Linked DNA regions of Homo sapiens: all the other regions are linked to region 1. The links come from fine-mapping of genetic effects on gene expression. A gene starts in region 1. Each other region holds a variant in brackets. All regions are shown on one strand. Distances are between the middles of the regions.

Region 1 (5,129 bases):
TCAATTTAGTGGGCTGCAACCAGCATTTAAAAAAATGGAATAGAATAAAATGCAACATGATAGGGAAAAAAATGAGAATTTAGCTCCTGAAGTAAAGATAAATATAATGTAAGTATGACTTTGTTAAAAATTTAACTCACTAATATGTACATTGGGTACATGAATGCATGTACTTAAGTGCAATTAGGTTGCACAATAAGAACCTCTTATTGTATGTTTTGTGAAAAAAATTGAAAAAATATTAAAAAAATCAAAAGACAACCAATAAGTCATGTTCAGAGAAGGGACTAAGGCCTAGACTAGACTGCTGAGAAGCAGCTTAGGAAAGGCATATAGTGGGCTAGAGGAAGAAACTCAGACGGGGGGCAGGGGTTCCATTGTGTTGAGGTTGGTTTTAGAAAGAAGATTTCAGAGAGAAGATTAGAAGTACTGATCCCAAATGCCTGATTTTCCCTCTAGGCTAAGCAATTTGAATTCAAGGACAATGGCTTTTTTTTTTTGGCAGGCTAGAGTGCAATGGTGTGATCGTAGCTCCCTGCAGCCTTGAACTCCTGGGCTCAAGTGATCCTCCTGCTTCAGTCTCCCAAGTAGCTGAGACTACAGGTGTGTGCCACCAGGCCTTGCTATTATTATTATTTTGCAGAGACAGGGTCTTGCTATGTTGACGTGGCTGGTCTCGAACTCGTCTTCAAGTGATCCTCCTGCCTCAGCCTCCCAAAGTGCTAGGATTACAGGCATGAGCCACCATGCCCAGCCAACGGACCATGTCTTAATCTTATCTCTAGTACTTAGTAAAATGCCTGGCACATATTAGGCCCTTAATAACTGTTGAAAGAACAAACTAGAACTAGTACTTGCACTTTAGAAAGATTATCCTGATGGCAGTCTGGAAGGGGAGGGACTGGAGGCTAGGTTTTTGTTTTTTAAATGAAATTATCACACAGTCCAGGTGAATGATGATGATGTCCTGAACTATGATGATAATGGAAAGAAAAGGATGGATTTAAGTTACTTTTTAGTCAGATTTATAAGGACATAGTGATTTCTTACATATGGGCATGGTAGCTAGTCTCCAAGAAAGGAGGCTGAAATCCTTGTATTCCCAGTGAAATCCCTGTACCACCTGGTGAAGTCCCCTTCCACAGTGCATCAGGGCTGCCCTGTGTGACAAGTAGAATATGGCCGAGAGATTGTGTGTTACTTCTGAGGCTAGGTCACAAATATATCATTTGCTCTTTTGCCTTGTTCTTTTGGATCACTTGCTCTGAGGAAGTCACCCCATTTTGTGAAGACATTCAAGCAGCCCCATGGAGAAATTCATGTGGAGAACAACCTTCACTTACTGCCAACAGCCACTACCAATTTGGCAGGCATGGAAGTCCGCCATCTTGGAAGTGGATCCTCCAGCCCCAGGCAAGCCTTCAGTGGACTGCTGCCCCGTTTGATATCTGGACTGTAATCTTGTGAGAGACTGGAAGCCAGACCACCTAGCTAAACTACTCCTAAATTTCTGACGCAGAGAGATTGTGAGAGATAATAAAAGTTTATTCCAAATGTCTGATTTTCCCTCCAGGCTAAGCAATTCGAATTCAGGGACCATGTCTTTTGTTTGTTTGTTTTAAGCCACCAAATTCTGAGGTTAATTTGTTACATTTGTTTTGCAGCCTAAATAACTAATACAATGGGGGTGAAAGAGGAGAAAGCAAAGACTACCTACTAAGTGCAGACTAAGTGCTTGAAGAAGGAGCTAGGGGCCGGGCGCGGTGGCTCACGCCTGTAATCCCAGCACTTTGGGAGGCCGAGACGGGCGGATCACGAGGTCAGGAGATCGAGACCATCCTGGCTGACACGGTGAAACCCCGTCTCTACTAAAAATACAAAAATTAGCCGGGCATGGTGGCGCGCGCCTGTAGTCCCAGCTACTTGGGAGGCTGAGGCAGGAGAATGGCGTGAACCCGGGAGGCGGAGCTTGCAGTGAGTCGAGATCGCGCCACTGCGCTCCAGCCTGGGCGACAGAGCGAAACTCCGTCTCAAAAAAAAAAAAAAAAAAAAAAAAAGAAGGAGCTAGGGTTGGGATGGAGGAGATAGTGAGTTATCCTCAGGACCTATGCTTGCCTTGTTTATAGGATATCCAAGTGGATATGCCCATAGGCAGTCTTTGTTCCTCGCCCTCAAAGGCCTACCAACCCTAGAAGAATCAGTTCAAATGTCACCTCTTCTGTGAGGCCTTCCTGATTTCCTCTGGCAAAACCTGGCCCTTCTGCACACTTATTGCACGTTATTATAGCAAACGTGCATTGCTTCGTATTGCAATTATCTATTTGCAGTTATTTGCTTACATTTGGAAGCCCCATTACAGTGTGAACTCCCTAGGGCAAGGGCCGTGATTTTTAGTATTTTCTGTATAATCGTGTGTGTGTGTGTGTGTGTGTGTGTGCGTGTGTGTGTGCGCGCGCGCGTTACACTGTGCCTGCCCAGCACATAGGCAGCCGTCCTTAAATGCTTGCAAAGTATTAATTTTGAGAAACTTGGTGCGTGTATCCACGTCCTCTTATTAGTAAGTTTTCCTTATTAGTACAGCTATGGGCGTTTGAGTTTTTGGAGTGGCCGGAGCAAACTCGCCACTCGAGGTCCCTGAGTGGCAGCCCCAGCGCACTTCCGAGGCAGAACTCCCACCTTCACCTGGGTCTAGCTCCGCCTCTGCCTGGGTTAGGCCTCTCCTCCCCTCAGCCCCGCCTTCACTCAATCCCGATTGGCTGGAGGAAGAAGGAGGCCCGACCATTGGCCCCTTTCTGAGGGGGCGGAGCCGGGCGGTGTTTCATCCCTCAGCCTCAGGCTGAGCCGGACCGAGCCGAGAGGACCCGAGTGGGGCCGAGGCCAGTAGCCCCGGGGCCCTGAGCAGAGGCCGTAGCTTGCGCCGCACCCGCGGCCAGGCGGAGCCAAAGATGCCGGCCTCTGCTGCGCGGCCCCGCCCGGGTCCCGGGCAGCCTACAGCCTCGCCCTTCCCGCTACTGCTGCTGGCGGTGCTGAGCGGCCCGGTATCCGGCCGCGTCCCCCGCTCGGTGCCCAGAACCTCGCTTCCAATCTCTGGTAAGGCGCGGACGCCCACGCCCTCAGCCCTTCGCGCCCACACCCACACCCACACCCACCTGCTCCTCAGACCGCTCGGCCGGACCCGGGCCTCTCAGCCTGGTGTATGGCGTTTCACGCCGCCCACGCCCCGCCGGGACCGGGGCGAGATCTTCGCACTTCACCGCATCCTCTCTGCATCCCTCCCGCGCCCCTCAGCCCCTCATCCCCAGCCCGGGCCTCGCGCCTCGGCTCCCACGACACGCCCAGGCTGCACCAGCGGGCCCTATTCCCGGAGCCGCAGGAGCGTCCAGTCCTCACCGTGCAGACTCGGACACTGAGGCCCAGAGCTCGGGTGGGGGCTGCCCGAGGTCGTTCATTTCGAAGTTCCGTCTCCCTTAGTCCCCTGTTTCCCCGCACATACACCTGGGTCCATCATTCCAGCTTGACGCCCACTCTGCTTTCAGACCCATCAGTCTTTCATTCTACTCCAGCTTTCCATTCCGATCTCCAGGTCAGCATTTCCATCTTCTCCAATTCATTTCCCTATCAGTTCTATACATCATCCGAGCCTCTTGGCCCTTCTGACAGCCCTTCCCGCTCCCCTGACATCTCTGACAGCAGCTCCCATTCTCCCATTATTGGATCCACGTTAACTCTCTTAACTTCCTCAGTGTTCCTCGCTGCCTCTGCCCATTCCCTACATTGAATATTGGTAAACCATTCAATGTGTTGATGTAAAGTTCTGCTTAAATGATTTTTCAAGTCTTCAGAAGGAAAAATAGAGGAGGGGGATATGATCCTTTGAAAAGATGTGGAAGAAGCTAGGAGACGTCACAAGGTTAAAAGTGATCATTGGGGCGATTCACATTTTAGACTCTGCTGAGGTGGGTATGAGCATGGCCGTGGACCTTGTTGTCTTCTCAGTGGGCATTGAGTGTTATTAGCACCTTGGGCAGACAGAACCAGTGAAGCCAAGAGTACAACCTGTTGGCAACAACTCTGGACTGGTTAATAGTAGTTTAGAGTTTAAATTCAGACTAGTGCCATATAGGGATGCTGTGATTCCAGAAGGCGAAGTTGTGGCCAGAGCCTGGGGTTTCAGTTTGCACCCAAGCAATAGCCACAAAGTAAGTTGAGATTGCCAGGCTGGGTTGATGTCCAGGCATCCAGAGATGTCTAGATGGCAAGCAAGGTGAAGCAGAGTTGAGGATGTGAGGGGAAGTTAGGTGATCCAGGGCTTATACTAAGCATGAGAGAGTGGGCACAGAGGTAAGTATGGGTGTGGGAGGAAGGAGTGGGCGGGACTCATCAGTACATCTAGGAATGAATGGGTTGGTGTCCAGTCTGCAGTCTTGAGGGTACTGAGCAGAGGAAGCAGGTAGAGCAGAGCTGTATTGGTGCAAGGGTAGGGTCCCCAGAACCAGAGGTTGAGCTAGGAAGGTAAATTCATGCCAACTTATTCCAGTCTTTAAATAGATACGAATTTTGAATGCTAATATGAGGTTTAGATTTTTTTTTTTTTTGAAGCGGAGTCTTGCTCTGTCACCCAGGCTGGTGTGCAGTGGTGTGATCTTGGCTCACTGCAACCTCTGCCTCCCAGGTTCAAGCAATTCTCCTGCCTCAGCCTCCCAAATAGCTGGGATTACAGGTGCGCGCCACCTTGCCTGGCTAATTTTTTGTATTTTTAGTAGAGACGGGATTTCACCATGTTGGCCAGGCTGGTCTCAAACTCCTGACCTCAAGTGATCCACCCACCTCAGCCTCCCAAAGTGCTGGGATTACAGGCGTGAGCAACCGTGTCCAGCTAGTGCTCTATTTTTATAGAAAAAGCATACTTACCCACTGGATTGTGTGCTAAATATTCTGGCCTCATCTATCTCTGGTTCACTTGTCAAGGCTGTGTTTCTCCCCCATGGCTGCTTAATAAATGGTACTTGGAAGAAAACAAAAATTGGCCCCTTTGGTTTTGCTCTTGTGGACTTGACCCTTAGGAAGCGATGGCTAACATCACTCTCCTCTCTTCCTGCCAGAGGCTGACTCCTGTCTCACCCGGTTCG
Region 2 (5,129 bases), 53 kb after region 1:
AGTGGAAACTGTAACTTGCCTACCAATGCGGGCTGGATTCACACTTAGCCAGACGTCTCCAATAATGCTCCCAGCCCTAGCAGAACCCCAGTTGCCCTCCGAATGGTCACTGGATTTGTCCCTTCCTATCTTCTCTCCTTCTCCAAACCCGGCCCCATAATCCTGACCTTCATTTCTGCTAGCCCTGGAATCCTATGATTTGCCCTGCTCTTCTTCAGCTCCTCCCAACACTGCAGATGTCTTTGTTCTCCTATGCGTTTGGTCCTCCTCCTGCCCCTCAATCCAAGGGTCCATCAGTTTCATGCAAATTAGGATCATATTCTCTTCATGACCACTCATCCTAGAAGGGAAAGCTTGCAAATGTGCAGATGGGTTTGGTGTGAGGGTCAGGATGGACAGAGAAGTGCATTTATTCAGTCCAACATTTTCTAAATACAAATTACATTTTTTAAAAAAGGAAATTAAAATAACAATTAAATACCATTTCCCCATGGCAAAGGCAAGCAAAGAATGACCGTATACCCTGAGTAGGTGAGGAATATAATTTGGTAACATCTTTCTGGAGAGCAATTAGGCAATGTATTTCAAAAGTGTTAACATTTTCACATTTTCTTTATCCTAGCAATTCCACTCTTAGGAATTTAATTGAGAATAAGAACAAAGATTTACAAGCTTGTCATCACAGTAATTGCCTGGAAATAGTGAAAAAATTGCAAAAGATCTAAGTATTCAAAAATAAGGAATTGGTTGAGTAAGTAGAGACATCCCTGTATAGGTTTACTCTGTAGCCATAATGGATAATATTGAGAAATCTATTTATGGTCAATGAAAGATGTTTGTCATATATTATCATATAAAAAGCAGATTATAAAGCACTATGTACAGTATTTTACAATGAGTATTTAAAAACTTTTTATAGAAACAGGGTCTTGCTCTATCACTCAGGCTAGAGTGCAGTGGCACAATCATAGCTCACTGACGCCTCTGACTCATGGGATCTGGTGATCCTCCTGCCTCAGCCTCCTGAGTAGCTAGGACTACAGATGTGTGCCACCATGCCTAGCTAATTTTTAATTTTTTTTGTAGAGATGGGATCTTGCTATTATTGTCCAGGCTGGTCTTGAACTGCTGGTCTCAGGCAATCCTCCTGCCTCAGCCTCTCAAAAGCACTGGGATTATAGGTGTGAGCCACTGGGCCTGGCCATATTTGCACATTTTTAAAGTTTCAAAAGATATGTATCAATTTATACACTAGTATCTTGGTGTTTGGAGGTTACAAGTTATTCTCTATTTTCTTTTCTTTTTTTTTGTATATTTTCTGATTCCTTTATGGTTAATGTGAATTAGTCATGTAATTACAAGCCATTTTAATTTGCATTAAATTACTAGTAACACATTTTAGGCTTTGGGAATTCAAAAAATGAATAAGAGAAGGAGAAACAACATTTATTGAATTTTTTTTAACATTTTAGGCAATGAGCTGAATCCTTTGTATAATTTAATTCATTTAATTTTTACCATAATTGCATGGGATATTATGTTTCCAGTTTACAGATAAGGGAACTGAGGCTCATAGAAGATTAGAAACTAGCCTAAGATTGTACATTCAGTGGGATTTGAAACCAGATCTGACGCCAAAGAACTTATCGATATTCATACAGGTTTAAAATTTTTCCATGACACCACAGGAGCTTGCAGTATTAGAGGGGCTCAGAACCCACAAACCCAAAGACTTCAGGTCCAGGCAGACCCAGATCAGTGGCTCATGAGTGAGACAAACATAGGGTCATGGAGATGCATAGAGGGGAGATCTGGCTGCATAATCAGGGAGTGAGATCTGATGTGAACTTGATGTCAGATTTCAGGAATCAGCAATTGAGGCTAGAGCTTTTCCCGAAGGCCAAAGAATGTGGGTGCAGTGGCAAGGAGGAAGAGTAGGGACAGATGGGTTGTCTGGAGTAGACGTGGGGAAGTTTCTGACACAGGCAGTACTGGACAAGGTTGTCTGCACGAGGTTTGTTGATTCATATTTCACGGTTAATCTCTTTGCATTTATTTATTTTATAGCATTACCACTTTTGTGTCATTGATTTTCACTTCTGAGTTTGCCTATTTGTTTGAAATCTCTTCATCTCATTTCTATTAGTTTTTATACTCCATTGAGCACTTCTCAGTGAGTGAGCATTTTCACTTCACACTCATCAAAGAGCCAAATGAGGAGAGGAGACACCCTAACTGCAGGGATTAGGTAGTAGGCTTCAGAGGCAGTGACCAAGCAGGATCCCTGGTAGGCCACTCCCTCTCCTCTGCTACCTGGAAGCAGAACAAGGCTGGATCTCACCCTTCTGCTACCTGCATTTAACTAACTAGGAAGTCATATGGGTTATATTTTAAAATATATTTTAAAAATATGTATCTGACAAATGCATTTCATGATCCTAGATTGGATTCTGGGTTGGAAAAAATTACTATAAAGTACATTGGCAAAATTTGAATGTAGGCTATATATTGTATAATAGTTTGTTATCAATGCTAAATTTTCCAAATTTGTTAATTATACTGTAGTTATATAAAAAGATCCTTGTTCTTAAAAGACAGATGCTGAAGTATTTGGGGTTAAGGAGCATGATGTCAGCAACCTATTCTTAAATGGCTAGGCAAAACCAATAATAATGTGTGCATGTGTGCAGATTATCTATTTATCTATCTATCCATCTATCCAACTATCTAGAGAGAAATAAAACAAATGAGGCAAAATATTAACGACTGGTAAATCTAGGTTAAAGGTATGTAAATGTTCATTGTATTCTTGCAGCTTTTATGAAAGTTTTTTTTTTTTTTAAAAAGGTTAACAATTTCTCTTGAAGACTTCTGCTTCTGGCCAAAGTGGAGTAATAGGTTCA[G/T]ATTTGCCCTCTTGCCTGAAACAATAACAACAACAACAACAAACACAATAAAGATATATGAAGGAATGGTTTTCAAGACATGGACATCAGGTGACAAATGACAGTGATTCCTGGGAGTTGAGGAGAGTTTTACAATTGCTCCAGCTTACAGCCCTGAAGAAGTTCCTAGGGCACAGTTCAGGAAGGTGGAACCCAGATGGAGCCTGGAAAATGCTCTGAGTTGAGGAAACAGAGATAAGAGTATGGGGAGACCAAAGCAACTAGAGTTTGCAGGATAGATGATGGAGAGGAGAGAGGTGCACAGAGAGAGCCCAGGAGATCCTCAGGGGTCTCCTCAAGATCGGTTCAACTAAGTACCAATCAGCACATGTGTGTGAGGAAACCATCTGCGAGGATTAGAAGCAGCGCTGCTCAGTGCTCACTCAGGGCTGAGAACAGTGCCAGTTCCCACCTGCCAGATTGGAAAGTCCCATGATTCCTGGGGCACTCAGTAGTTTGTACAGAAGGTCCTTGCCTCAGAAGTGGGCAATAAATAACCCTAGACTGAGCACTTCTCAGCACCCTTGAAAAAAAAAATCATAAAATCAAAACCTGAGGATCCAACTGTTTCCAAGTAGTTTAACTTATCCCAGAGCAAAGTTCAAAAATATATATAGGAATCCAAAAATATTTAACACCCAGCAAAGTACATTTACAATGTCTAGTATCTAAGCAAAAATTACCAGGTATGAGAAGAAGTAGAAAAATATGACCCATATTAAAAAGGAGCCTAGGCTTTTCCCCTCACTCAGCTGTGATGAGGCACCCCAACCCTTCCTTGCTGGGGTGATGTGCCCTGTAATGACCTTCTCCTCAGTGATTATGTCAGTGAAGGCCATGTGGGGACCTGGAACTCTCACCCTCACCAGCTGTAATGAGACACTCTACCCCAGTGGAGTGTCCACAGAGGCCAAGTGAGGACTGTGGACTTACACAACCACCTGGCAATTATGAAGCAGCAGTCCCCTTTCCTGACTGGCACAGTGTCAGACAGGGCCTGCTAAAACAGAAAATTTAAATAAGATATAATGTCTTATATAATTCCCCCAAAGCCCAGGAATTAATAGAAAATCACTCATCATGTCAAGAACCAGGAAAATCTCAACTTGAATGAGAAAAGACAACAAATGCCAATGTTGAGATGACACAGATGTTGACAAAAATTTTAAAGAAACCATTATAAAAATGCTTCAATGAGTAGTTATAAACATGCTTAAAACAAATTTAAAAATAGAATGTCTCAGCAGGAAAACACAAGACATAAAGAGGAGCCAAATAGGCTGGGTGCGGTGGTTCACCCCATTAATACCAGCACTTTGGGGTGCTGAGGTAAGAGGATCGCTTGAGCCCAGGAGTTTGAGACCAGCCTGGGAAACATGACAAATTCCTGTCTCTACAAAAAACACAAAAAGAGCTGGTGTGGTGGTGCGTGCCTATAGTCCCAGCTAACTCAGGAGGATGAGGTGGGAGGTTGGCTTGAGTCCAGATGGCAGAGGTTGCGGTGAGCTGTGATTGCATAATTCAAGAAGCTAATGAACCTCAAACAGAATAAACTGAAAAGAAATCCATGACAAAGCACATCATAATCAAACTTCTGTAAAACTAAGACAAGACAGAATGAGAGAAATGACACCTTGCACAGAGAGGGAAAATAATTTGAATGACAGAAATTTTTCATCAGAAACTGTGGAGGCCAGAGGGAGGCATCACACATTTTTCAAGTCCTGAATGAAAAGAACTGTCAGCCCAGAATCCTAATTCAGTGAAAATGTCATTCAGGAATAAAAGGGAGATTGCCTAGCTATATTAAAACATTATAATTTAGCCTAATGTAATTTTCTAGGCAGTTTCAGTCAGTTTTTTGCTACTCTCTGATGTTCAAGATAGAAAAAGTTATTTTACAAGCAAGCTGAATACAAAATAATGGAAATAGTTTGTAAAACCAGTATATATTATATGCCTATATTGCACATGTTAAAGCACTCCATTATAATACAGTATGTAATCTACTGTTTTTGAACGGTTTTGTTCAGCATTTGGCTATTTAAAAAATATTTATAAAGAGATTTATTTCTTTCAGTTCTGGAGGCAGGAAAGTCCAAGGTTGAGGGGTTCACATCTGGTGAGGGCCTTCTTGCTGTGTCATCCCATGGCAGAAGGTGGAAAGGTAAGAGGGCATGTGTGTAT
Region 3 (5,129 bases), 81 kb before region 1:
TATGGATAAACAATAGTAAGCCACAAAGTATTTTTCAGCTGAGTAGTGGCAGAATCAGTGCTGAATCAGATTAATCAAAAGATTAATCTGTTGGCATTATGTGAAATGGACTAGGAATGGGAAGCACTAAAAAAGCATTGAGACAAGTTGAGAGATTATTGCAGTATTAAAGGAAAGGTTAAAAGGGCTTGAATTAGGATAGTGATAACAGATGCTATAGGGATAGAATAGGCAAGGTGTAATACGTGATTGAGTATTGATACATAGAAAAACATGTGATAGGGGAATGCTTCAAGGAGATTAAGCTAGTGCCAATGTGCAGGGAAAACCAGAAGAGAGAGAGATTGGAGGCAGGGAAGCCAGTTAGGAGTTTACTGAAGAAGTCTTGGTGAGACAAGCAGTGGGAACAGGAAGTAAAGGAGAGTTACAACTCATGTTATGAGTGGAAAATTGATATGACTTAGTGATGGAGTAGGTGTAAAGGGTGAGATGGCTGAAAGTGACTGAGGTTTCAAGCCTGGGTGACTAGACAATGGCGGTGCTGCTATTAACAGAAAGGCAGAAGTTAGAATGAGAAGTTGGCTGGAGGGGAACATTACAGTGAAAAACAGAAGGCAAGAGAGTTAAATATGGAGCTGACTTGAAATCAGATTTTAAAAGAACATATGAAAAAGGTATATGAAAGAATAAAAAACCAAAGATGGAGTTAAAGAAGCATGGCAAACTTGTAAAAATAGGCTTAGGAGGTTAAAACCCTAAATAAGTCTCGTCACACTTAAAAATATTTGTGTTGAATTAATGAGCTGAAGTTTGTGAAAAGTTTGTACTCTATAACATACTGCCATTCAGGATTTTTGCTGCTTGGAGAAAATGTCATGTGAAAAACAAGAAGGAAGAGGCATTTAAACACTGTTTTGCGGCCAGGCACGGTGGCTCACACCTGTAATCCCAACACTTTGGGAGGCTGAGGTGGGCAGATCAACTGAGGTTGGGAGTTTGCGACCAGCCTGACCAACATGGAGAAACCCCGTCTCTACTAAAAATAAAAAATTAGCCAGATGTGGTGGTGCATGCCTGTAATCCCAGCTACTCGGGAGGCTGAGGCAGGAAAATTGTTTGAACCCAGGAGGTGGAGGTTGTGATGAGCCAAGATTGTGCCATTGCACTCCAGGCCTGGGCAACAAGAGCGAAACTCCGTCTCAAAAAAAAAAAAAAAAAGAAAGAAAACTGTTTTGCTGCTGTCTTTTCCAGAATAGGAGAGTGGTCTTTAATCTAGATGAGGTGGACCAAACGGAGTAAAGAGAACAGCAGTACAAGATGAGTAAGCCGTTGTTATGAGTACTGTGCCATTTTAAGTGAGTTCAACTCCGCTGAAGTACAGAAGCATAGGGTGTAAGTGAAGGAGAATTAGCTTCAGTGTTATAGTCTGTATTTATCTGGCTACATCCAGAGTAGGGAATTTAGCAAAGAAGTTAAAAACATGGGCTTTGTAGTCAACAGAACTAGGTTCAAATTCTTTTTAAATTTTCTTTCTTTCCCACCCCCCCTAAGCAGTGTCTCCCTCTGTCGCCCAGAGTGCAGTGGTGCGATCATGGGTCACTGCAGCCTTGAACTCCTGGGCTCAGGCAAGCCTTCCACCTCAGACTCCCGAGTAGCTGGGACTACAGGTGTGAGTCATTGCTCCTGGCTAATTTCTTAATTTTTAATAGAGACAGGGTCTCACTCTGTTTCTCAGGCTAGTCTTGAATTCCTGGGCACAAGTGATCCTTCTGCCTTGGCCTCCTAAAGTGTTGGGATTACATGTGTGAGCTAGGTCCTCAAACTCTGACAAGACTACTTTGGTAGCTGTGTGACCTTAGGTAACTTACTTGGTCTTTTTAGGCCTCAGCCTCCTCCATCTGCAAAAGTTGGGATAACAATCTCTACTTCAGATTATTGTGAGGATTAAATGAGGTAAAGTATGCAAAACACTTGGTTAAGTGACTACCACTTAGTAAATGCTCCAAAATATGGGTATCTACTAGTGACAGGTCAACTACATCCCTGCCCTTTTCCAAGACAGAAGACTAACAAAGAAAAGGTCTCTTCATCTCTACAACAGTGCTTGGCATACAGTGGTGAGTAAATATTTGATAAATAAATAGACAGATAGATAAATACAGATCCTCAAACCCTGAGTTTAGTGGCAGGGAGACTCTAATCTCGTGTATGTAAGCCAGGATGGAAGGGAATACTTTTTCCCATCCTTATTATTACTATTTTTTTTTTGAGACAGAGTCTCACACTGTTGCCCAGGCTGGAGTGCAGTGGCACGATTTCGGCTCACTGCAACCTCCGCCTCCCAGGTTCAAGCGATTCTCCTGCCTCAGCCTCCCAAGTAGCTGGGATTACAGGCATCTGCCACCACGCCCAGCTAATTTTTTATTTTATTTTATTTTTAGTAGAGACAGGGCTTCATCATGTTGGCCAGGCTGGTCTCGAACACCTGACCTTGTGATCCACTCACTTCGGCCTCCCAAAGTGCTGGAATTACAGGTATGAGCCACCGTGCCCAGCCTATTATAACTATTTTTTGAGACAGGGTCTTGCTCTGTCGCCCAGGCTGGAGTGCAGTGGTGCGATCTTGGCTCACTGCAACCTCTGCCTCCCGGGTTCAAGTGATTCTCATGTCTCGGCCTCCTGAGTAGCTGGGATTAGAGGTGCGTGCCACTATGCCTGGCTAATTTTTGTATTTTTAGTAGCTGTGGGATTTCACCATGTTGGCCAGGCTGGTCTTGAACTCCTGGCCTCAAGTGATCCACCTGCCTTGGGCTCCCAAAGTGCTGGGATTACAGACGTGAGTCACCACACCAGGTTATAGTTCCTATAACTTTTCCCCTACTTAGGACATTTGAGTTGTTTCTAATTTTTCACCACTGTAAATAACACCGAGATGAACATGCTGGTACATATATCTTCATCCCTTTCCTGACTGTCTTCTTTGGCTACATTCCCAGCAAAAGGAAAGGGTATCATTTTCCGGAAAATTTACATCCTCTCTAGCAGTGTATTAAAATGTCAATGTATGTTTAAAATATCAAATACTGTAAGAATGTA[T/C]TGAAGCCACCTGGGAGAAATTCCTCCCATGTGATGTATCATCTCAGATTCTGAGGAACTGGGTGGAGTAAATAGTAAACTGAGCTGTTGGGCACTAACAGTTACAACGGCTCCGTTGTCTCTGCTCTGCAAAGACAGGAGATGGGTGTTCTTCAGACAGGAAACAGGAACTCAGTGGGTGGACCTAAAAGGGAGTGCGGGCTTCGAAACAGGAAAAAAAGAAGTCTGCTTCTGATAGTGAAAGAGATGCATTGCTGTGCTGTCCTGATCATCCTACTAAGTCAAACCTTTATTCTATATCTGTCCTTGCATTCTATTTGCAGTTGTTTTAATTTTGCTAAGTGTTGTGTTAGTTTCATGTGACTGCTTTTATTTTTTCCATTTCAGGGAATGACATCCATCTAGTTGTTCAAGTCAGAAACCATGCAGTTATTTGATACTTCCTCTTTCTCACTCCCTATATCCAATCTCTCAACCAAGTTCTGACAATCTTCTCTCTAAAATATTTCTACACTTGGTCATAGCTAAAAGGCCAAGAAGCGATTCTAAAATATTTCTCTAATTGGTTTGCTCATCTCATCTTGACTTCCAATGTTCTAGTTCAAACCACCACGGTCTCTTGACTAGTCTACTGCAATACCCTCCTAGCTCATTTTCATGTTTCCATTTTTGCTTCTGCGAGTTCATTTCCAAATTTCTGCCCAAGTAATATTTTAAAAACTGAAATAGATAATGTTATTTCTCATGATTTGTTTCCCTAAGTCCAAATCCTTAATTTGGCCTACAAAGCTTTGCATGATTTGACCCCTGCTCACCTCTCCAACCCTACCTTTTGTCACTCTCTCCCTTCCTCCCTGTTTCAGTCACAATGGCTTTTCTGTTCTTGATTTTTCTCTCAGCTCTTTCCAGCCTTAGGGTCTTTGCACATGCCTTTCCTTACACCTGGAATGCTCTGCCTGCCACCCTTCACCTGGTTAATTCTCACTTATCTTGTAGGTCTTAGTTTAAATGTCACTTCTATAGACAGGCTTTCTTATAGCAGCTTTTTCTTTTCCTTTATAAACTTCTCATAATTAAGAATATATACATTTCTGTTTCTTCCATTGGAGAGTGGGTTTCTTAAGGTCATAGGTAATGTCTTTTAGGTCACTACAGAATATATATCTAGGGCTTGACACAATGTCTGGCATAGACTAAATGCTCTTCATTTAAATGAACCATAACGTCTATCAGTGTTAGGAAGGAAGTAGGTTTTAAAATACAGGTACGTACGGAAAATTCCCTGTTGCCATTTAAATGTTAAGCTTGCCAATCGGGGATTTTCAAGTTTAGTGTTGTATAACTGAATTCAGGAATTATTCTCTATAGCATGAAACCAACAAAAGGCAAGTCATATTTACTCCAAATTTCAGAGTATTTCCAGTTTTTTCTGTCTTCTTGAGGGTTGAGGCAGATTTAGGATTGGGCAGAGTTAGTTAGCTGCTTTTCTGTGGTTGGTACTTTAAAAACGATTCTTCTTTTTCACCTGGGGACATGGGTACTCACCAGCAGGCTGTGACACAAAGCATGGAAATGTTGCTGATTTGTCTCCAGCTCATCCCAGTCCAGCTGCCAACAGCTTGTAGGTCTGAGGATGAACGGGAGTCCATATGTCAATGACTCGCAGAGCCCGCTAGATTTTAAAGCCCTAGGAAGAGATAATTACAGTCAAAGACTCCTTAGTGATATCTAGAACCTCCACCTAGATCCACTTCAATTCAGCTTAACTCTAAGACAGTACTGTGAAAGCTTTTAAATTAGTGTCTGTGAACTATGCATCTTTGTATGGCCAGCATCTAGCATAGTATCTAGCACACAGAAGATTGTCAAAGTTCAGGAACCTGTGCATGGGCACAGTGGTAGGAACTGGGAAGAGTTGAAGCAGACTCTGCCATTATTGCTAATTCATTGTGTTTTTTTGTTTTGTTTTGTTTTTCTTTCAAGATAAGGGCTTGCTCTGTTACCTAGGCTGGAGTGCAGTGGTTCAATTAACT
Region 4 (5,000 bases), 550 kb before region 1:
TCTATAATCAGCACATAGAGTTTATAATAAAAAGGAAACTCTTTTTTTTTTTTTTTGAGACGGAGTTTCACTCTTGTTGCCCAGGCTGGAGTGTAGTGGCATGATCTTGGCTCACTGCAACCTCCATCTCTGGGTTCAAGCAATTCTCCTGTCTCAGCCTCCCAAGTAGCTGGGATTACAGGCGCATGCCACCACGCCAGGCTAATTTTTATATTTTTGGTAGAGACAGGGTTTCATCATATTGATCAGGCTAGTCTCGACCTCCTGACCTCAGGTGATCCACCCGCCTTGGCCTCCCAAAAGGAAACGTATTTTAAGAGCAAAAGGAGGCTGAGTGTTTAGAACAAGGAAGATAATGGTGGACGGTCTGAGCTTCACTGGGCAACGTGGTGCTGTGGCGTCAGTGCTATGCCAGAGGGCAGAGCAAGCCTCCAGGTCCTGGCCAGGCCCCTTGCCAGGTATCTCATCTCCTCTCAGCCTTCTTAGGATCATAGGAGATAATGTGCCTTGAAAGTTGATGAGTGGACTGTAAATGCTGGTGATACTGTTGCCCCGTGAACCAAGATCAATGTGCTTTCCACAAACTCTTGGAAGTAGTAGTGGCTGGTATTGGGATTGTGTGGGGAAAGATGAGGTCATGTGTTTTGGGTGCTCAGACCCCTCTCTCCCAGCACTCGGTCCCCCAACCCCATGTCCTCTCTCCCCCACTGCTTGGGGCAGGTCTGCACCCTGACCAAGGAAGACAATCGCTGCGTGGGCAAGATTCCCGAGGATGAGCAGCTGCATGTTCTCCCCCTGTACAAGATGGCCAACACGGATGAGTTTGGTAGCGAGGAGAACCAGAATGCAAAGGTGGGCAGCGGAGCCATCCAGGTGCTCACCGCCTTCCCCCGCGAGGTCCGACGCCTGCCCGAGCCTGCCAAGTCCTGCCGCCAGCGGCAGCTGGAAGCCAGAAAGGCAGCAGCCGAGAAGAAGAAGATTCAGAAGGAGAAGCTGAGCACTCCGGAGAAGATCAAGCAGGAGGCCCTGGAGCTGGCGGGCATTACGTCGGACCCAGGTGTGTGGGGGGAGGGTGCCCGCTTGGAGTCACAATGGCACTGTCCTCATGGGGGCCCCTGCTCTTCCACGCACCCTCCTGCATCACACTGGAACTGGGGCCTCTGCTTAATTGTCAGTCAGAAGGGTATCTGCAGCAGCCACAGCCAGCCTGATAGGAGGCCGTGGGGATGCAAGTACAGCAGGACTTGTTATCTGCGTGGAAGTGAGCTTGGTAGAGGGGAAGCACTGGGTTTCTCCTCTAGTTTGCATCCCTCAGAGAATCAGAGGCTCCCCTCTGAGCTCTAGTTTGCTCCCCTCTGAGATACTGAGGTGAGTAGCAGCACTTCAGGACATGTGGGTGTGTGCCAGGGCAGCAGGGCTTATGGGCGGAGACGGTTGCTGGCAGGCATCTGAGTTCTCATTCTCCTGGCCCTGGTCCCTGCAGTGATCCCGACTGGGCTGGGCACAGAGTGGGTGGTGGTGGTTCAGTACAACTTCTGGAGTTCTCTAGGGTGAAGAGAGGAGTCGGTGGGGGTACTGTGGACCCCGCATGAGGTGCTTCTCAGCAGGGATCGCCTCCTCCCACCCCCAGTGGGGCTGGGGCTGGGGCCTGTGCTGAGCAGGGCCCAGGGAGTACGACCCGTTCTGGGCTGGACATGCCTCAGCACCTCACCTGCCTGTCCCAAAAGAGGAAACATCCCTGGGAAAGAGGGAGGGTCCATCCCCAGTCCCCGACCCAGGGCCTCTCCAGGCTGTGGTGTTGTCTGCCCCTCTGCCATCTTGCCTTCTGTTTCCCCAGGCCTGTCTCTGAAGGGTGGATTGTCCCAGCAAGGCCTGAAGCCCTCCCTCAAGGTGGAGCCGCAGAACCACTTCAGCTCCTTCAAGTACAGCGGCAACGCGGTGGTGGAGAGCTACTCGGTGCTGGGCAACTGCCGGCCCTCCGACCCTTACAGCATGAACAGCGTGTACTCCTACCACTCCTACTATGCACAGCCCAGCCTGACCTCCGTCAATGGCTTCCACTCCAAGTACGCTCTCCCGTCTTTTAGCTACTATGGCTTTCCATCCAGCAACCCCGTCTTCCCCTCTCAGTTCCTGGGTCCTGGTGCCTGGGGGCACAGTGGCAGCAGTGGCAGTTTTGAGAAGAAGCCAGACCTCCACGCTCTGCACAACAGCCTGAGCCCGGCCTACGGTGGTGCTGAGTTTGCCGAGCTGCCCAGCCAGGCTGTTCCCACAGACGCCCACCACCCCACTCCTCACCACCAGCAGCCTGCGTACCCAGGCCCCAAGGAGTATCTGCTTCCCAAGGCCCCCCTACTCCACTCAGTGTCCAGGGACCCCTCCCCCTTTGCCCAGAGCTCCAACTGCTACAACAGATCCATCAAGCAAGAGCCAGTAGACCCGCTGACCCAGGCTGAGCCTGTGCCCAGAGACGCTGGCAAGATGGGCAAGACACCTCTGTCCGAGGTGTCTCAGAATGGAGGACCCAGTCACCTTTGGGGACAGTACTCAGGAGGCCCAAGCATGTCCCCCAAGAGGACTAACGGTGTGGGTGGCAGCTGGGGTGTGTTCTCGTCTGGGGAGAGTCCTGCCATCGTCCCTGACAAGCTCAGTTCCTTTGGGGCCAGCTGCCTGGCCCCTTCCCACTTCACAGATGGCCAGTGGGGGCTGTTCCCCGGTGAGGGGCAGCAGGCAGCTTCCCACTCTGGAGGACGGCT[G/C]CGAGGCAAACCGTGGAGCCCCTGCAAGTTTGGGAACAGCACCTCGGCCTTGGCTGGGCCCAGCCTGACTGAGAAGCCGTGGGCGCTGGGGGCAGGGGATTTCAACTCGGCCCTGAAAGGTAGTCCTGGGTTCCAAGACAAGCTGTGGAACCCCATGAAAGGAGAGGAGGGCAGGATTCCAGCCGCAGGGGCCAGCCAGCTGGACAGGGCCTGGCAGTCCTTTGGTCTGCCCCTGGGATCCAGCGAGAAGCTGTTTGGGGCTCTGAAGTCAGAGGAGAAGCTGTGGGACCCCTTCAGCCTGGAGGAGGGGCCGGCTGAGGAGCCCCCCAGCAAGGGAGCGGTGAAGGAGGAGAAGGGCGGTGGTGGTGCGGAGGAGGAAGAGGAGGAGCTGTGGTCGGACAGTGAACACAACTTCCTGGACGAGAACATCGGCGGCGTGGCCGTGGCCCCAGCCCACGGCTCCATCCTCATCGAGTGTGCCCGGCGGGAGCTGCACGCCACCACGCCGCTTAAGAAGCCCAACCGCTGCCACCCCACCCGCATCTCGCTGGTCTTCTACCAGCACAAGAACCTCAACCAGCCCAACCACGGGCTGGCCCTCTGGGAAGCCAAGATGAAGCAGCTGGCGGAGAGGGCACGGGCACGGCAGGAGGAGGCTGCCCGGCTGGGCCTGGGCCAGCAGGAGGCCAAGCTCTACGGGAAGAAGCGCAAGTGGGGGGGCACTGTGGTTGCTGAGCCCCAGCAGAAAGAGAAGAAGGGGGTCGTCCCCACCCGGCAGGCACTGGCTGTGCCCACAGACTCGGCGGTCACCGTGTCCTCCTATGCCTACACGAAGGTCACTGGCCCCTACAGCCGCTGGATCTAGGTGCCAGGGAGCCAGCGTACCTCAGCGTCGGGCCTGGCCCGAGCTGTCTCTGTGGTGCTTTTGCCCTCATACCTGGGGGCGGGTTGGGGGTGCAGAAGTCTTTTTATCTCTATATACATATATAGATGCGCATATCATATATATGTATTTATGGTCCAAACCTCAGAACTGACCCGCCCCTCCCTTACCCCCACTTCCCCAGCACTTTGAAGAAGAAACTACGGCTGTCGGGTGATTTTTCCGTGATCTTAATATTTATATCTCCAAGTTGTCCCCCCCCCTTGTCTGGGGGGTTTTTATTTTTATTTTCTCTTTGTTTTTAAAACTCTATCCTTGTATATCACAATAATGGAAAGAAAGTTTATAGTATCCTTTCACAAAGGAGTAGTTTTAAATTCCATTTAAAATGTGTATTTATTGGATTTTTTAAAAGCGACAATAGTAATGGTAAAGGATGGGCAGGAAAGGCCAGTAGTGCTCCCCCGCCCAGTCTCGCTGGGTCTGGCGAGCCAAGCCCCTCGGGCGCTGGCGAGGTCCTCAGCCATCTGCCCCTCGAGAGCCAAGCGCGGACGGTAGCCACCCAGTTCATCCCTCCCGACATACACCCCTTCCCTTTGGGGAAGGGAGCCTCAGGACAGCTTCTGTCCTCTCTGATAGGATGGGAGAGTCTGCAGAAAACCATCTGGGGTCCCTTTTCCAGTCCCCGGCTTGGAGTCGAAGGGCAGATGCACCCCAGGCCAGCCCCACGAGATGCTGGCATAGCTTTCCCCAGAAACCAGGTTGGAAGTAGATGGCTTCAAGCTTGCTAGTCTCCACACTGAATCCTCTGTCCGTTATTTATGGAGTCACACGATGTCATGGTTCACTAGGCAGCACCTCACGCTGGAGCTGGAGTGCGAGGTTCTTAGGGGCCGTGCCCACCATGTTGCCAAGCCAATGCATGCTGAGCTGAAGGAATTTGTCTTAGTGGCAGTTTTTTAAAAAATGCCCCCAAAGTCTATGCTGATACTGAAAAAGGGCTACTGTATCTTTAAAAACAGGAAGTTGAACCCAAGCTGTGAAAAGCCAGTGGTGCTCTGTGCATGGTGCTGTGCGGAGCCTGGTGCTGTAGTGTTGTGCTGGGACTTTCTTGACTCTTGGGCAGGTCACATCCTACAGGAGCTCAGCAGACCAGTGTAACAACAGTTAATGCATCTATCCTGATCCCTGAATTTCCACATTGGACAATGGTGCATGCCTCACACCTGAGCCTGCTTCCTCCATGCTGTCATTGGGTTCGGGGGCCTACACTTAACAATTTTAAAGTGCAAGAGTCAAACATTTTCAACAGGTTGCTATAATTTTCCTCCCTAATTGGTGCCATTTCTCCATTTGATCAT
Region 5 (5,129 bases), 40 kb after region 1:
GAGGGATGATTATGCCAATATTTTTCAGAGTCCCAAGATGATCAAGGCCAGCTTTGATCTCAGTCTACTGAGTCATGCTGGACGTATATATGGCTCGGTCACTCCATTGCTGCAGCCATTGGAATGCTCCTGTCGGGGGTAACAGTGTCCAGCCTTACGGAGCAGGCCTGACCACCCTCCGATGGTGTGGTGGGCACTGGGCCAGGAGGGAAGCTGGTGGGGTGTGGGGCAAGTACCAGGCAAAAGAAGTACCAGGCTCTAGGGGCAGACTGCTGGATTATGACTCAAGTTGACGCAGGAAGATAACAAATCCAGTCCTCTCCCCAGAGGAATTGAGACCTAGGAGTGGCCTTCTCACAACTTCAGGGTGCAGGGTGGAGAATAAGTAAGGATCAGATGCACCACACATACCAGCAGCTTGTGCCAGGCAATGTGCCTAAGATGAGGTGGGGAAAGGCAGACACAGAGTTCATGAAATGTGGCCAACAGAAACGAGGTAGCAGAATCCACCCAACTAGCTGTCTGAAATACAAGGCAGGGACCCAAGGGAGGAAACACATATGGGGGACATTTAAGGTCCCAAGAGACCGGGGATGAGGTGACAGGACCTGGTATGCTCTGCCTATGACCTTCAGCCCCATTGTGGGGCTGAGAAGCCTGGCATTTGGAGGCTTCAGACTGCCACAGGGATCTCCAAATTCACCCACTGGGGAGGCAAAGGCTTCTGTTGGATGTGTGGCAAGGAGGAGCCCTCTTCACTCAGGCAAGGTGGGCAGGCTTCAGAGGGCTGGGAGTTCTTTGCAAACAGCTAGGATAGGGCTAGGACTGGGTATGAGTACTGAGGACAGGGGCCATGGTCACCTGGGAAATCAAACCCAGAGTAAGCTTTTTTGGAGCCCACAGATCTGAGGCTTCTGTTCAGAGGGGCAGGGACCAGGCAGAGCAGACCAGCTTGGTTTTTCACAAAGGTGGGAGTGAGTTGGAAAGTGGCCTTAGGTCACAAACACTAGCCACTTTAAGAGAAATGCAGCTCATCTCACTGACCTTGAAATGAGTTTTGCATGTGCACACACGAGTGTGTTTATTTGTGGGTGAAAGAAATTTATCTAAACAATTACATACATATGCTCGTAATAAAGCATTTAGGACATGCTGAAAAGTAAATAAAAATAAGAATCACTTCAAAACCCATAGGCCAGAGATACAATCTGTAAATATATTTTGGTGGATTTCCTTTCAGACTTTTCTCTATGTATATATTCAACATAGGGATATAAATAGATATTTTCAATAAACATAGTATGATACTATTTTGTAAACTGCTTCTTCCATTTGATACTATATCTTGGGTACTTTTCCACAATAAAATGTTATTCTATATCATCATCCTGCATAGGATTCTGTTGCTTGATATTTCTTATTTTAACTAACCTTCCATTGATTAACATCACATCATTTGAAAATAATACATTTGTTTCTTTCTTCTCTTTCTTATTTCAGCATGTTGGCTGGAACTTCCAGAACTGGCCCAGACAGAACTCATTCTTGACTTGAACCTGATTTTATAGCAGTGCCTTTAGTATTTCACCATTGTTTTTCACACTTCCTCTTGGTTTCTAATAGGTTTGTAATACAGAGGGAGTCTTTGCATTACCTCTAACACTAACAGGGTTTTATATTTTTCTTTTAAGAGGATAGGATGGATGTTGAATTATGTCAAATATCTTCATAAGCAGCCAGTAAGATGATGGTATAGTTTTTCTCCTTTAGCCTGTGAATGTCCTAGTGCTGAAGCCACGTTGGTTCCTAAGATCATCCCTGTGTTAGTGGTTTTGCAGATCGGGAAGGTGAAGTTGTTGCCTTGAAAATATTTCAGAAAAGGTAGCATGCTTTATAACCTGTGCTATACCTGCTCTTTTTAACTGTAAATCAAGGAAATTGTCCTCTATCAGTTCATAGGGTGTTTCCTCATTTTTTTTTTATTGCTACAGTGTTCCTTTGTGTGGTTGTGTCATAGTTT[G/A]TTTATTCAACCAGTTCCCAGTAGTGATAGATATTTGAGGTGTTTCCAGTCTTCTGCTGCAGTAAGCAACCCCATAAATCCATTATTTTGTAGGTGTGTGGATATACTTTAAAGTAAATTCTCAGAAACGGGACTGCTGTGTTAGAATGAACCAGGAAGCTTTCAGCCTTTTAGAGATAGATTACTAACAGATAAACTCTGATAGACTCAGGTAAACAGAGTTTAGACAACTTGGCTATAATATATTCCTATGTTTGATAAAACATCTGCAGACAAGACAGTTGAGCCTGGAATTGCTGCACGTGTGTGTGCATGTGTGTGTGCGTGCTTCTTTCATACCTTTTATGCTTTCTTCTTGATATTCATGCTTTCTCATAGCGATTCACATCCTTCAGTCTCTCATTTTTTTTAATGCACTTAGATTTTCCAGCACATGATGGAAGCAAGGAAGGTGATGAAATCATTGTTAGACATTGAGCAGCTTGGGGCCAGACACCTTGGCAGGTGCTCTGAGTATATTATTTCGAACTCTCATTTCAACCACACCAAGAGCCCTTTTGAACTCTTTTTACAAAATGAGGAACCCAGAGCTCAGTTTGCTCAAGGTCCCCAGCTAGGAAGTAGTAAATGCAGAGTTTGAAGCCAAGTCTATCTGCTCCACAGCCATATCCTCTTTATTAGCCACACCCATCCAGGATTTTTCCCCCAGCGTTCCTATTCCCAGTCATTCCCAGCTAACAATGAGTTGGGAAAGACTGATGCGTGGTGACATGTCCTAATAGTTAAAAACAATACCATTCAGCTTCTGGCTTATTCTTTTAAATAACAGCTCTGTGTTGCTATCTTCATTTTGATGCCAATCAGGTAAAATTAACAAACACTTGTGGAACATCTTTCAGGTGGAAAGCATGAGGCTAGTTGCTGTAGGGAATACAGAAGTGTAAGTCAAGACTTATGCTGGACAAGCTGAAGCTTAGTCTTGCCAAGCAATATGTACATTGACTGGTTAATGTAGCCTGTTTCTTTTTAGTGCTGAATAATATTCTATTGTCTGGATGTGCTGCAGTTTATTTATCCACTCGCCTCCTAAAGGACATCTTGGTTGCTTCCAGGTTTTGGCAATTATGAATGAAGCTGTTATAAACATACATGTGCAGGTGTTTTTGTGGATATGTTTTCAACTCCTTTTAGTAGATACTGAGGACTGTGATAGCTGGGAGGAGAATTTTTTTTATTATTTGAAATTTTGTTTTTGAACTAAAATGGTTTTTAAGGAATAAAAAGAGGAAAATTGTTGTGCTGGGATCTCTGCGTGTCTCAGCAGGTTATAGCAACACTGTCCACAACAGCATCAGACACTCAGCCAGATGTGAGTCGAGTTGCCTCCCGTGTAGCTGGGAGCAGACTCAATTGCAGAGCTGGTGTCTTATACTCGTAGAGCTCCTCTATCCTCCTTGAACCTTCAGGCTCTGTCTCCATGCTTCTCACACAATGATCTCCTTTGCACAACCTCAGAGCACAACAGTGCTTCTTTTCTGCACAGAGCACTCCCCTGTCTGGACTTTTGTCGTCCTCAGCCTTGCCTTTTTCTCTCCAAATGTAGCAGAGCAGTTGGCTCACCTTGTTTTCCATATCCTCTACCCATGGATTTCTGTTATCCCTACTCCCTCATCCCTACAACCCTCAACAGAAGTAAATCCAAATCAATGAATAAAACAACTGGACTTTGTCATATAGAGGGTAATTCCCCAAGAAACAGGACGCTGTATTAAACTCTTTCAAAAGAGTAAATGAGTTACCTTTTATATGACCAAATTGCTTTCTAAAAGGACTAATCCAAGTTAAAGTGCAAATTTAAAAGCCTCTGAATAAAGCCTAAGAGAGAAGTACATGGCATGGACGATTGACAAATATAATCCAAGAGCAGGAAGTAACCAGATATGAATTGTGAGATGCTGGGAATTCTCCCGAAGTTGGTGTCAAACATACTCATTAAACTTGATACTGTCTGTACAACGAAAGGGCACAGAAGGGAGTGGTAATACAACACAGGGTGCGATCCAGGAAAATACCTTATTTATAGAAGAGCAAGGCTGTAAGGGACTGAGAGCATACAGGGCCACCCTAGTCTCACAGCTGAGCAAATTCAGGGAAGCCAGGGCCCCACCTAAAATCAAATCTGAACCTCTGCCACCTAGTTCAGCACTCTTTGCCCATTTAGAAGGCATTCTGAAGTGATTTTGAAAAAATCTTTATTAATTTCTTTTTTGCAAAGTTAAAATATTCATGATTAAAAATATATATATAAAAGTTTGTATACTGAAAAACATCTCTCCTGCCTCTTTTTTTTTTTTTTTTTTTTTTTTAATTGAGACGGAGTCTCACTCTTTCGCCCAGGCTGGAGTGCAGTGGTATGATCTTGGCTTACTGCAACCTCCACCGCCCAGGTTCAAGCGATCCTCATGCCTCAGTCTCCCAAGTAGCTGGGACTACAGGTGCCTGCCACCATGCCCAGCTAATTTTTTTGCACTTTTAGTAGAGACGGGGTTTCATCATGTTGGCCAGGCTGGTCTCAAACTCCTGACCTCAGGTGATCCACCCACCTCGGCCTCCCAAAGTGCTGGGATTACAGGCATGAGCCACCGCGCCCGGCCCTGCCTCTCTTATTAATTTCTTCTGTACCCTTCTAGTGTTTCTTTGTGAAAATACAATCAAATATAAAAATGTGGGAAGGGGGTGAGGGATAAAAAAACTACCAGTTGGGTTCAGTGTACACTGCTCAGGTGATGGGTGCACCAAAATCTCACAAATCACCACTAAAGAACTTACTCATGTAACCAAATACCACCTGTTCCCCAAAAACCTATGGAAATAAAAAATATTTTTAGAAAAGAAAGAAAAAATTAAAATATTAAAATGCATTCTTATTTCCATTATTTTTTACATAAACAATATATCAAGGAGATCCTTCCACATAAGTGCATAGAAAGTGTCCTTGTTCTGTTTTAAATTATTGTGTTGTAAGGCTGAATCATAGTATATTTAACTAATCTCTATTTATGGACCCTGGGGTTATTTCTAATCTTTTGCTCTTACAACCTGTGGCGTC

Alleles and levels. Alleles are on the strand shown, and positions count from the first base shown. SD is a standard deviation of normalised expression in the study named. Not every link is listed here.
In carriers of allele G in region 4, the expression in fibroblasts of the gene that starts at base 2,816 in region 1 tends to be lower than with C alone (moderate effect, 0.69 SD a copy in GTEx).
In carriers of allele G in region 5, the expression in whole blood of the gene that starts at base 2,816 in region 1 tends to be higher than with A alone (small effect, 0.15 SD a copy in GTEx).

Evidence for each region. PIP is the estimated chance that this variant, and not a neighbour inherited with it, causes the effect.
Region 2: its variant is fine-mapped to the expression of SEMA4F in whole blood (TOPMed, PIP 0.98).
Region 3: its variant is fine-mapped to the expression of SEMA4F in lung (TOPMed, PIP 0.97).
Region 4: its variant is fine-mapped to the expression of SEMA4F in fibroblasts (GTEx, PIP 0.99).
Region 5: its variant is fine-mapped to the expression of SEMA4F in whole blood (GTEx, PIP 0.92).

Annotation. Positions count from the first base shown.
Region 1 is chr2:74,651,432-74,656,560 of GRCh38, forward strand. It overlaps SEMA4F (ssemaphorin 4F), which reads left to right and starts at 2,816. Exons shown (of 14, transcript NM_004263.5): 1 at 2,816-3,090; 2 at 5,103-5,129. The coding sequence starts at 2,946. RefSeq lists a silencer at 2,663-3,092.
Region 2 is chr2:74,704,664-74,709,792 of GRCh38, forward strand. It overlaps a transcript of SEMA4F not described here. Among named protein-coding and RNA genes, the nearest start is that of SEMA4F, 53 kb to the left of the region's middle. The variant G/T (reference allele first, on the strand shown) is at 2,904.
Region 3 is chr2:74,570,797-74,575,925 of GRCh38, forward strand. It overlaps M1AP (meiosis 1 associated protein), which reads right to left. Exons shown (of 11, transcript NM_001321739.2): 7 at 4,642-4,783. Among named protein-coding and RNA genes, the nearest start is that of DOK1, 19 kb to the left of the region's middle. RefSeq lists enhancers at 351-450, 1,448-1,657. The variant T/C (reference allele first, on the strand shown) is at 3,097.
Region 4 is chr2:74,098,556-74,103,555 of GRCh38, forward strand. It overlaps TET3 (tet methylcytosine dioxygenase 3), which reads left to right. Exons shown (of 12, transcript NM_001287491.2): 11 at 721-1,057; 12 at 1,838-5,000. The coding sequence ends at 3,621. Among named protein-coding and RNA genes, the nearest start is that of BOLA3, 47 kb to the right of the region's middle. RefSeq lists an enhancer at 895-1,394. The variant G/C (reference allele first, on the strand shown) is at 2,757.
Region 5 is chr2:74,691,824-74,696,952 of GRCh38, forward strand. It overlaps a transcript of SEMA4F not described here. Among named protein-coding and RNA genes, the nearest start is that of SEMA4F, 40 kb to the left of the region's middle. The variant G/A (reference allele first, on the strand shown) is at 2,021.